Homo sapiens: one gene and its partners. The protein of the gene in region 1 interacts with the protein of each later gene in a pairwise test. Each region holds a gene or a part of one and is shown on either strand. Other genes may lie near its edges.

Region 1 (3,500 bases):
CAGTACAAATTATTCTACTGTCCAAAGACCATGAAGAGACTGAGGGAGAAAAAGTTCAGAGCTGATTGCCCTCTTTTAGTTTTCACTTGGCGTTTCTATTATACCTTGCACACTATCTCTATACCACAGGAATTGTCTCCATGGCTCTGTGCTCCAATCTTCTCCACTCTGCTGATCACTCCAAGGGGAACATCAAGGATAAAATGCGGGTCCTAGGTTCAAAAATTAAGATCAATGCCTATTAGTGTCAGTCAACAGTTTTCATATTTTAAGTCTTTGCTGGGTTACAAAACATGTTTGTTTACTTCGCATTTCCTCTTTGTCCCAGCTAAATTGAAGTCTGATTGACAGCATTCCTTGTGAAATATATATTGAGACAACAATGGAATTTCCCCTCCAGGTTTAAGCGGTACTTTAACAGCCTTTGTTTTCAAGATACAAACATCTGTTTGCAAATGTGTGCATCTCAAAATCCAACCTGTGGTTATCTCAGGGTAATGGGATTTCAGGGGACTTTTTACTTTCTTCTTTTAGTGTTCTTTTAAAAGTGTTTCTTTTAAAATAAAACACACTTTAAAAAACTCACCCTCTCGACATTTTTGAAGTACAGCTTAAAGTCCGTCACTGTCAGGGTTCCACTCACTGCTCCCATAAATGGGCAGATATACATGACATCTTTCACTGAAAGAAAAAGGCCAAAGTAGCAACTACTGCCATAGACTTGTGCTTCCATAAAACTTAACACGAGTTTTCCAAATATATATTTGTGATTCCAGTTTTCCAGGAATTTTGTATTTTATAGGATTATATCAATTATGACTTTCAATATAGAGAGATGCATAGTCTTCTAATAAATTTCAATTTTTTAAAACAAAATTCTGATTTGCTACTTAATGAGGTTTTAAGTAAAGGGCCTCATAAGAAGTTATATTCTGTCATTTTTCCTAGGTAGTTAACATTTTCCCTGGGTGATAAATTAATCATATTCAAAACATTAATTAAACTCTGAAAACCCTGGGCTACTGTTTCATGAATTACTGCTACTTAAAACTAATGAAAACTAAAGATTGTCTCCTAATGCATCTCCAAAGGAAACTCTTTTTACAGAAGACAAAACCTAGAACCACATCAATGAAATGGAAAAAGACTTATTTCAAATTCCTTATCCCCTTATCAGTTTTAATTTTTTGTCAATATCTATTAAGTGCGTGACATATTTAATTCCCATTAGTGTTAAGAAGCTCACTTCTATCACAAAGATACCACATCTTCATGTTTTCCCAAAGTGCCATTCCACTGGAATGACAAGAATATACATAGCTATATATGAGTCCAAGTGAGACAACAAAAGGCATTAACGTCATTGAACCAAATTCTCAGAATACTTCCATTGAACTTTTCTATACTCCTTATGTACTGAGAGCCTTCTATTGCTGGGATTCTGGGTATAATTGGAAGAAGTTCCTGTCCATGAGCAGCCCATGACCTGTGAGAGATACCACACAGAAAAATCGCCATTATACTAGAGCAGAGGTCCCCAACCTTTTCGGCACCAGGGACTGGTTTCATGGAAGACAACTGTTCCATGGACCAGGGCAGAGGTAGGGGGATGGTTTCAGGATGAAACTGTTTCACCTCAGATTATCAGGCATTAGACCCTCATAAGGAACATACAACCTAGATTCCTCACATGCGCAATTCACAACAGGGTTCACGCTCCTGTGAGAATCTAATGCCACCGCTGATCCGACAGGAGACGGAGCTCAGGCGATAATGCTCACTAGCCCGCTGCTCACCTCCTGCTGTGCAGCCCCGTTCCTAACAGGCCATGGACCAGTGCTGATCCACGGCCCATGGGTTGGGGATCCCTGCACTAGAGGTTGACAAAAGCTAAAATAACAATGTGGACACAAAGTATTACAATGGAAGTTCAGAAAAGGATCAACTTAACTCAATAGGAAAGTGGGTAGGGGGAGTAAGAGAAGGAAGGGAGGAAGGGCACAGTGATAAGTTGTTAGAGGTTAGTATGCCTGGATCAATGGGTGCAGTGAGGACAGTCGAATATGAGGCCAGAGAAGTTGGCAGGGAGTGGATTGGCAAGTGCTTCTGTAGGAGACTAAGGCATTATTATCATTATCCTTAAAAGATAACTGTTTAAACAAAAACAAAAACAATATATTGTGGGGTTTATAACATATGTAAAAGTAAAATGGATGACAACAACAGCATAAAGGGTAGGAGGGGACAAATGGGAGTATACTACTATAAGGTTCTTATCCTGTACATGAAGCAGCATACAATCATTTGAAGGTAGACATAAAGATGTAAAATAACTAGTTACATAACAAAACAAACAATTATAGCTAATATGCAATCACAGGACATAAAATAGAATTCTAAAAAGTAAAAACCCCATAGTCTCGACCCAAAAGCTCCTTCAGCTGATAAACAACTTTGATAAAGTTTCAGGATACAAAATCAGCATACAAAAATCACTAGCATTCCTATACACTAACAACAGCCAGGCCAACAGCCAAATCAGGAATGCAATCCCATTCACAATAGCCACAAAAAGAATAAAATACCTAGGAATATGGCTACCCAGGGAGGTGAAAGATCTGTACAATGAGAATTACAAAATACTGCTCGAAGAAATTAGAGATGACATAAACAAATGGAAACACATTCCATGCTCATGGATAGGAACAATCAATATCGTGAAAATGGCCATACTGCCCAAAGCAATTTATAGATTCAATGCCATTCCTATCAAACTACCAATGACATTCCCAGAACTAGAAAAAAACTATTTAAAAATTCATATGGAACCAAAAAGAATAGCCAAGGCAATCCTAAGCAAAAAGAACAAAGCTGGAGGCATCATGTTACCAGACTTCAAACTATACTACAGGCCCACAGTAACCAAAACAGCATGGTACTGGTACAAAAACAGACACACATAGACAAGTGGAACAGAATAGAGCGCCCAGAAATAAGGGTGCACACCTACAACCCTCTGATCTTCAACAAAAGCAAGCAATAGGGAAAGAATTCCTTATTCAACAAATGGTGCTGGGATAATTAGCTAGCTATATGCAGATGACTGAAACTGGATCCCTTCCTTACACCATATACAAAAATCAATTCAAGATGGATTAGAGACCTAAATGTATAACCCAAATCTGTAAAAACCCTGGAAGACAACCTAGGCAGTACCATTCTGGACATAGGAACTGGCAAAGATTTCATGATAAAGATGCCAAAAGCAATCACAATAAAAGCAAAAGTTGACAAATGGAATCTAATGAAACTAAAGAGCTTCCGCACAGCAAAAGAAACTATCAACAAAGTAAACAGCCTACAGAATGGGAGAAAATATTTGCAAACTATGCATCTGACAAAGGTCTAATATCCAGCATCTATAAGGAATTTAACAAATTTACAAGAAAAAACACAAACAACCCCATTAAAAAGTGGGCAAAGGACAAGAATAGATACTT
Region 2 (3,500 bases), on another chromosome or scaffold:
CCCCTAGCTCACTCCGCTAGGTGCTTCTTCCAGGACAAGAGGGTTCAGACTTCAGATGCAAAAGCAGATCCTAAGGACCCGCCATGTGTGGAGAGCGCAGGCCAAGAAGTGCAGTACCGAGCCCCAGGCTTCCCAATGTCCCAGATCTGTCTGGGGAGAAGGCTGTCCCGGAAGAGGGAGTCAGCTCAGCTCTGTGAACTGCAGCTGGAGGAGACAGTTGGTAAAATGCGGAAAGCCAAGAGGGTGAGAGCAGCAAAGTGGGAGGAGAGCCGCGTTACAACTCTGGAAGGTTCTGTGATAAGGGGGAGCAGAAAAACCCGAAGATCCAGAGCCCCCTTTGGTAGGGCGGTTTGTTTTTTAAGGGCAAGATGTCAGAGGATGCAGTTTGGTGGTTAGAAGATGGGGTGAGTTCGGGAACAAAGTGGGGGTGTTGGGGAGAGATCTGCTGCACCTGGGGTGCATGGCTGGACACTGGTAAGGGTGAAGAAGCTGGCCAAGGCAGGGCTCTAAGGAATGCATCAGCCTGCCCTGGGCTCACTACCCCATTTTCACCTGTGAAAGGCTGGCTTACAACAATTGAGCTTGGGGACAGTGGAGGCAGACAGGCCCCTTTGCCTGCACACCCAGCAGAGGCTGTGTCCTCCAGCGTGGCAGAAAACCCAGAAGCTGGCATTTAGTCCCTGAGGAGCCCTAACTCCACCCACGAATGCAGTTCAATCCCATCATTACAGATTTGGCGATTATTTGGTGATTATACAGAGGGCTGTCAAGAATGCTGGCCTTGACCTCCAGGCAAGGAAAGCGTGTAAGTGCTGTGCCAGGTTTGGCCAGCAGGTGGCAGTGCCGCTGTCAGTCATTCCCTGGGAACCCACCCAGGAACGGGATGGGCAGCTGTGTGGGAACAGCCTTGTGCGTGATCACTTTGTGGTATCACTCATGCCTTTCCGGGCCTGTTTCTGTACCTGAAGAGTGATTTGAGACCCCACACTGGGGAATGAGAGTGCACACAGAGCCTATAAAGTGGCCCTCAGCGTGAATGGGCCCAGGGGTCTGGTAAAAGGCGGCGTCAGTGGGCGGGAGCAGCCACGCTGTCCTGATTGTGTGCAGGCACTACTGTGCTCATCACATCACCTCCCCTCCTCTGGGTTCCTGTGGCCGATATTTAAATGGAGGAACAGAGAGGGCAAGCAGTTACAGTACAGGATGTCTTGGATTTGGAGGAAGAACTGAGGCTTCAACCCTGTTCAATCCCATCATTACAGATTTGGGATTATATGGATGGCTGTCAAAAATGTAGGTAGGCCTTGACCTCCAGGCAGGGAAAGATTGTCTAAGAATGCCAAAGCTGTCACTTCTCTTGGGCTAATCCACTGATAGGATGTCTCTGCTGATCTTTATAGGATTTCTCTTTCTCCTTCTCCTCACCCTGAGAATGTACTGCTTATTTCTGAAAGTGCAATTCTAGGCACAAAGAGATCCAACAACTCACATCCTGTTATCTGTCCACACCCTGAATGTCACACAACACTTTCCAACACAACACTGCACACAACGCAGTCATTACTATGCTTATTTCAAAACCACAAGTCTGTTGAGAGCAACTTCAAATTTACTGTTTTCAAAAAGCCACCCACCTAGAAAATCTTCATTCTAAACTCTTCTCTAAAAGATGCTATAAAACCAGGCTGCTTGGATGCAAGCTGATTCCTTAAACAACTCCTGAAGAGATAACTGAGGGACAATCTTGTGCCCTGGATCAGTGCTTGCCAATTAGTAGGGTGTCTAATTAATTCTGAGAGTCTGCAGCTAGCATTTTAAAAGATGGTAAGAACAGACTAGAGGATGTCAGAATGCACGGTTCCTACTAAGGGCTCTAACTTTTTTTTTTTTTTTTTTTTTTTTTTTTTTTTTTTTTGAGACAGAGTCTTGCTCTGTCTCTGGGGCTGGAGTGCAGTGGCGCGATCTGCAACTTCCACCTCTCGGGTTTAAGTGATTCTTCTGCCTCAGCCTCCCAAGTAGCTGGGATTACAGGCACCCGCCACCATGCCCAGCTAATTTTTTGTGTTTTTAGTAGAGATGGGGTTTCACCATGTTGGTCAGGCTGGTCTTGAACTCCTGACCTCGTGATTTGCCCGCCTCAGCCTCCGAAAGTGCTAGGATTACAGGCGTGAGCCACCGTGCCCGGCCACTTTTTTATTTAATGAAATAAAACTGAAAAGAAAAATCCAAGTGCACCGCTTTTACGAAGGGTGAAAGTTATTCCCTGTAACCTATGTCAGTTGTGTGAAATACATGTATGTGTACACTAAGTCATGGCGTAAAGTATATTCTCTATTTTCCACTGTGTGTTTCGGTAAAAACCTTTGAGAAGTCCTACTTTAATGGCAAAGAAAGCTTTTGCAGTGAGAGGTAGCCATATTTTCAAAACCATCTCCCGCTGGAACAGGATGGCATCTCCAGGTTCCTCTCTGTCTCATGATGGCTCTTTCAGTTTGCACAGGACCCCCTGGCCCTGTCCTCAGAGGTCTCTGTACCAGCACATGGGCCAGGCAGTCTCTTCTGTGACCGTGAATGTGATGTTCGACTCTCTAGTCCGAGGGTGACCTGAACTTAGAAGGGCTTGTCAGTGACATGAGGTGACTTTCTGCCTTGGATCCTCATTGTCACCCCTTAACAGGTCAGTGCCCTGTATCCCCTTTGCCCCACCACACTCTCCCAGGAGCGCAGGCATCAGAGATCACCCACTGACTCTAATCTGCAGCAGAGCCTCCCGCTCCCATGGAGAGGATCCAACTAAACTGAGGTGCTGGGGCACCGGCCATCTGCACAGGATGTGTCTTGCTCCTTATGGGATCTGGAGAGAAAATGTGTATGTGTTTGTGGAGAGAGTAGAGACAGCAGGAGGAGGGCTCTGTAGGACTATTGTCTAATTAATTTTCTTCCTTTCCAAGGCCTTTCCCCTAAGAAGGACCCCGGACCCCATCAATGTGTTCGAGTTGTATGCTGGGAACTGGGACAGCCAATCAGAGAAGTTAAGTCCTAATGAGACCAAGGATGAGCAGCTGCAGTTCCTAATTGACTTGCCACTTTCTCAGACCCTGAACCAGGTACCCAAAGACGTGGCTTTGTTCTCTGGAAACCCAGGACTGACAAAGTGTGTGTTCACTGCAGCATCCCTACCACTGATGACCCGCGACTCTTTCCCCAAAACAGCTGCAATCAGGCCTGGGTGCCTTTGGACCAAACGTGGCTCAGAGAGGATAGAAGAGTCAGGAAGTACAGAATGAGAAGTCAAGCAGAGTGAGTGTGGGGGCGCTGAGGCTATCTGCGCCAGTGTGGCAGGCCCGGGGCAGGAGGCCCTGGCGTTGCAGTGAGGACAGTGCTTTGGACCCACACGGTTTGGCTGAGTTAAAAGTGCAGAAGTATATTCCAAGCAACCCACACTTGCTAATTTAAACATACAGGCCAGGAACATTTTTAGGGCAAATCATGTTAGCAAT
Region 3 (3,500 bases), on another chromosome or scaffold:
AGCCAGCCCTTAGGGGTCCCTTCTTCCTTCGTGCTCAAGTCACTACTGCCTGCCCACCCCATTCATTTGGCATTTATGTGACTGTAACTGTGTTCTGTGTGCCCCTCTAGTCTTCAGACCTCTTGAGGAGAGGCTACTGTGTCTTTGTATCCTACAGAGCACTCAGCACAGTTGAAAAGCTCTTCAGGGGGCTGGGCGTGGTGGCTCACGCCTGTAATCCTAGCACTTTGGGAGGCCGAGGTGGGCAGATCACCTGAGGTCAGGGGTTCGAGACCAGCCTGGCCAACATGGCGAAACCCTGTCTCTACTAAAAATACAAAAATTAGCTGGGTGTGGTGGCTCATGCCTATAATCCCAGCTACTCGAGAGGCTGAGGCAGAAGAATCACTTGAACCCAGGAGGTGGAGGTTGCAGTGAGCTGAGATCACACCACCACATTCCAACCTGGGTGACAAGAGCAAAAAAAGAAAAAGAAATCTCAAAAAGAAAAAGAAAAGTTTTTCAGGGGACTCTTGCAATTGTGGCATCATGATCCTTCACACCTGCACTTACTGGACGCCTCCTGTGTACACAGCCCCTTTCCTCCTGTGCACAAGGTGGCCTGTGTTAGGACAGAGGCTGCAGCTCCCCCTGACCCTGCCTCTCCCCTGTTTGCATCTACAGGTACCCAGACAGCCATTGTCTTCATCAAGCAGCCGTCCTCCCAGGATGCACTGCAGGGGCGCCGGGCGCTGCTTCGCTGTGAGGTTGAGGCTCCGGGCCCGGTACATGTGTACTGGCTGCTCGATGGGGCCCCTGTCCAGGACACGGAGCGGCGTTTCGCCCAGGGCAGCAGCCTGAGCTTTGCAGCTGTGGACCGGCTGCAGGACTCTGGCACCTTCCAGTGTGTGGCTCGGGATGATGTCACTGGAGAAGAAGCCCGCAGTGCCAACGCCTCCTTCAACATCAAATGTGAGAGCCAGGGGGGCTGTGCCCAGTCCCCCTGTCAGACCCTCAATGACTGAGGCCTGGGGGATCCCTCCCTTACCTCAGCTTCTCCCATTTCCAGTTAAACGGGCCAGGCAGAATGCATTTATCATCAGCTTTTTTTGCTCATGTGGATAAGAGGAAATTAAAAGTTATATTTTTTCCAAAATTTTTTCCTTCAAGTCTGGGACCCATTTATCTGCTGCATGCTTGTGCAAATGGAAAGGGCGGCCGAGCCCTTGGCCAAGTGTCAGACTTGACCTGCCAGGGACCAGGCAGGCACTTAGTATCTGGTAACTGTAGCCCCAGCCTCAGCCTCCAGGGCTTCCTTGTGTCTGTTGGCACAGAGCCTCGAGGTTCCACGGCTTCCTGCTTGTCCTCCTTGCCCTCTGCCTTCCCGCCTTTGCCCTGCTCTGCCCCTCACTGCAACCGTGGCCTCTGCTACAGGGATTGAGGCAGGTCCTGTGGTCCTGAAGCATCCAGCCTCGGAAGCTGAGATCCAGCCACAGACCCAGGTCACACTTCGTTGCCACATTGATGGGCACCCTCGGTAAGGAGTCAGGGAGGTGGGGATGAAGAGGGTTATTCCGGACAGGGATGTCTCCCCAAATCTTGGACTCTATGCGGATGTTACCTCGCTCCATTCTGTGACCACTCGTTCCACCACCACAGTGCTCTTCACCCTGCCCTCCCCCAGATATTGCCCTATGCCGGCCCCTGGTGGCCTGAAGAGTGAGCCACATTGTGTGTAGAGCTGGGAGATCTAATATCAACTTGATTCTGCCCCTGAATCAGAATTACTGTGTGCCCTTTTGCAAGTCCCTTCCCTTCCTCAGGCCGTTTCTCCATGTATAAACTGAAAGGTCTAGCCCTGACCCTCTGATACTGTATCCTCTCCACTGGCCACTGAGTACCCCTCCCCACCACTGCTGACTGTGTCTGCCCTGCAGGCCCACCTACCAATGGTTCCGAGATGGGACCCCCCTTTCTGATGGTCAGAGCAACCACACAGTCAGCAGCAAGGAGCGGAACCTGACGCTCCGGCCAGCTGGTCCTGAGCATAGTGGGCTGTATTCCTGCTGCGCCCACAGTGCTTTTGGCCAGGCTTGCAGCAGCCAGAACTTCACCTTGAGCATTGCTGGTGAGCCTGGGGTGGGGGCGGAAGGGATGAGGTGAGCACAGGAGGGCCTCACCACCCAGGCTGCATGCTCCCCCATCTTTCCCTCTCCAGATGAAAGCTTTGCCAGGGTGGTGCTGGCACCCCAGGACGTGGTAGTAGCGAGGTATGAGGAGGCCATGTTCCATTGCCAGTTCTCAGCCCAGCCACCCCCGAGCCTGCAGTGGCTCTTTGAGGATGAGACTCCCATCACTAACCGCAGTCGGTAAGGCATCTGGCTGGGAGCATTCCAGTACCATGTACCACACACATGCATTCTGTAGAAGGGGGTGCGATTTGTATCACAGACATCACAGATTTGTACATGTATTATTTCAAATTTCCAAGAGACACAGTTGAATGTTTTGCTTTTACAAGATGAGTCTGACACAGGGAAGAGTCTCTGGGAAGAGCCCTTTTCCAGTTTGCACAAAGGCACTCTGAGCTAGTGATGGTTCCACTTCTCTCTCCCCACCACCCACATGGGTCTTCTGGGATGGAAGGGTAGAGACCCCAGGGATGAGAGAGACACAAGAGACCTAGGTAGTCAGGTGGTCATAGTCTAGATAGCGTGATCCAGTGTGGCAAAGACATCACACACACACACACACACACACACACACACACACACACACACACACACTTTTTAGAGGAAGCAAACACCTCTAGAAGGTTCCAGCCCTACTGCAGGGACTTCTGTTCTTGCCTGGACCCTAGGAGAACATAGAACACCTTTGCAGTGTCAGGCACGACCATGGTCCTTGGGGGTGTGGCTTCCTAGGCTAGGGGCTTGGATGCCACTTGGCTTCAGCCCTGAGGACATCATCAGTAGCCTGCCTGGTATGGCTGAGGGGTATCTGACCCTGGAGCTGGGTGCCCTATCAACGTGGCCCTGTGGGAAGGTGGCTTCCCTGTCTTGACAGTTGCACATGGTGGTTATTCTGTGTATTAGTCCATTTTAATGCTGCTGATAAAGACATACCCGAGACTGAGCAGTTTACAAAAGAAAGAGGTTTAATTGGACTTACAGTTCCACATGGCTGGGCAAGCCTCACAATCATGGCAGAAGGCAAGGAAGACCAAGTCACGTCTTACATGGATGGCAGCAGGCAAAGGAGAGAGAGCTTCTGCAGGGGAATGCCTCATTTTAAAACCATCAGATCTCGTGAGACTTGTTCACTATCATGAGAACAGCACGGGAAAGACTTGCCCCCATGATTCAGTTACCTCCCACTGGGTCCCTCCCACAACATGTGGGAATTATGGGAGCTACAATTTAAGATGAGATTTGAGTGGGGACACAGCCAAACCATATCACTCTCTCTCGCACCTGCATTGCCATTTGCCTCATTGCTTCCCGAGCTGATCTCCTGTAGTT

Evidence for each region.
Region 2: the proteins of MTMR1 (region 1) and ROR2 interact in a two-hybrid assay, tested with the Homo sapiens proteins (one study listed by BioGRID and IntAct).
Region 3: the proteins of MTMR1 (region 1) and PTK7 interact in a two-hybrid assay, tested with the Homo sapiens proteins (one study listed by BioGRID and IntAct).

The regions. Positions count from the first base shown.
Region 1 is NC_000023.11:150,724,396-150,727,895, reverse strand, and holds part of MTMR1 (phosphatidylinositol-3-phosphate phosphatase MTMR1), read right to left. Parts: intron 682-3,500; coding exon 587-681; intron 213-586; coding exon 105-212; intron 1-104. UniProt on the Homo sapiens protein: Lipid phosphatase that specifically dephosphorylates the D-3 position of phosphatidylinositol 3-phosphate, generating phosphatidylinositol. Could also dephosphorylate phosphatidylinositol 3,5-bisphosphate to produce phosphatidylinositol 5-phosphate.
Region 2 is NC_000009.12:91,733,729-91,737,228, forward strand, and holds part of ROR2 (tyrosine-protein kinase transmembrane receptor ROR2 isoform 1 precursor), read right to left. Parts: intron 1-3,500. UniProt on the Homo sapiens protein: Tyrosine-protein kinase receptor which may be involved in the early formation of the chondrocytes. It seems to be required for cartilage and growth plate development. Phosphorylates YWHAB, leading to induction of osteogenesis and bone formation.
Region 3 is NC_000006.12:43,128,314-43,131,813, forward strand, and holds part of PTK7 (inactive tyrosine-protein kinase 7 isoform a precursor), read left to right. Parts: intron 1-663; coding exon 664-951; intron 952-1,413; coding exon 1,414-1,516; intron 1,517-1,916; coding exon 1,917-2,107; intron 2,108-2,197; coding exon 2,198-2,348; intron 2,349-3,500. UniProt on the Homo sapiens protein: Inactive tyrosine kinase involved in Wnt signaling pathway. Component of both the non-canonical (also known as the Wnt/planar cell polarity signaling) and the canonical Wnt signaling pathway.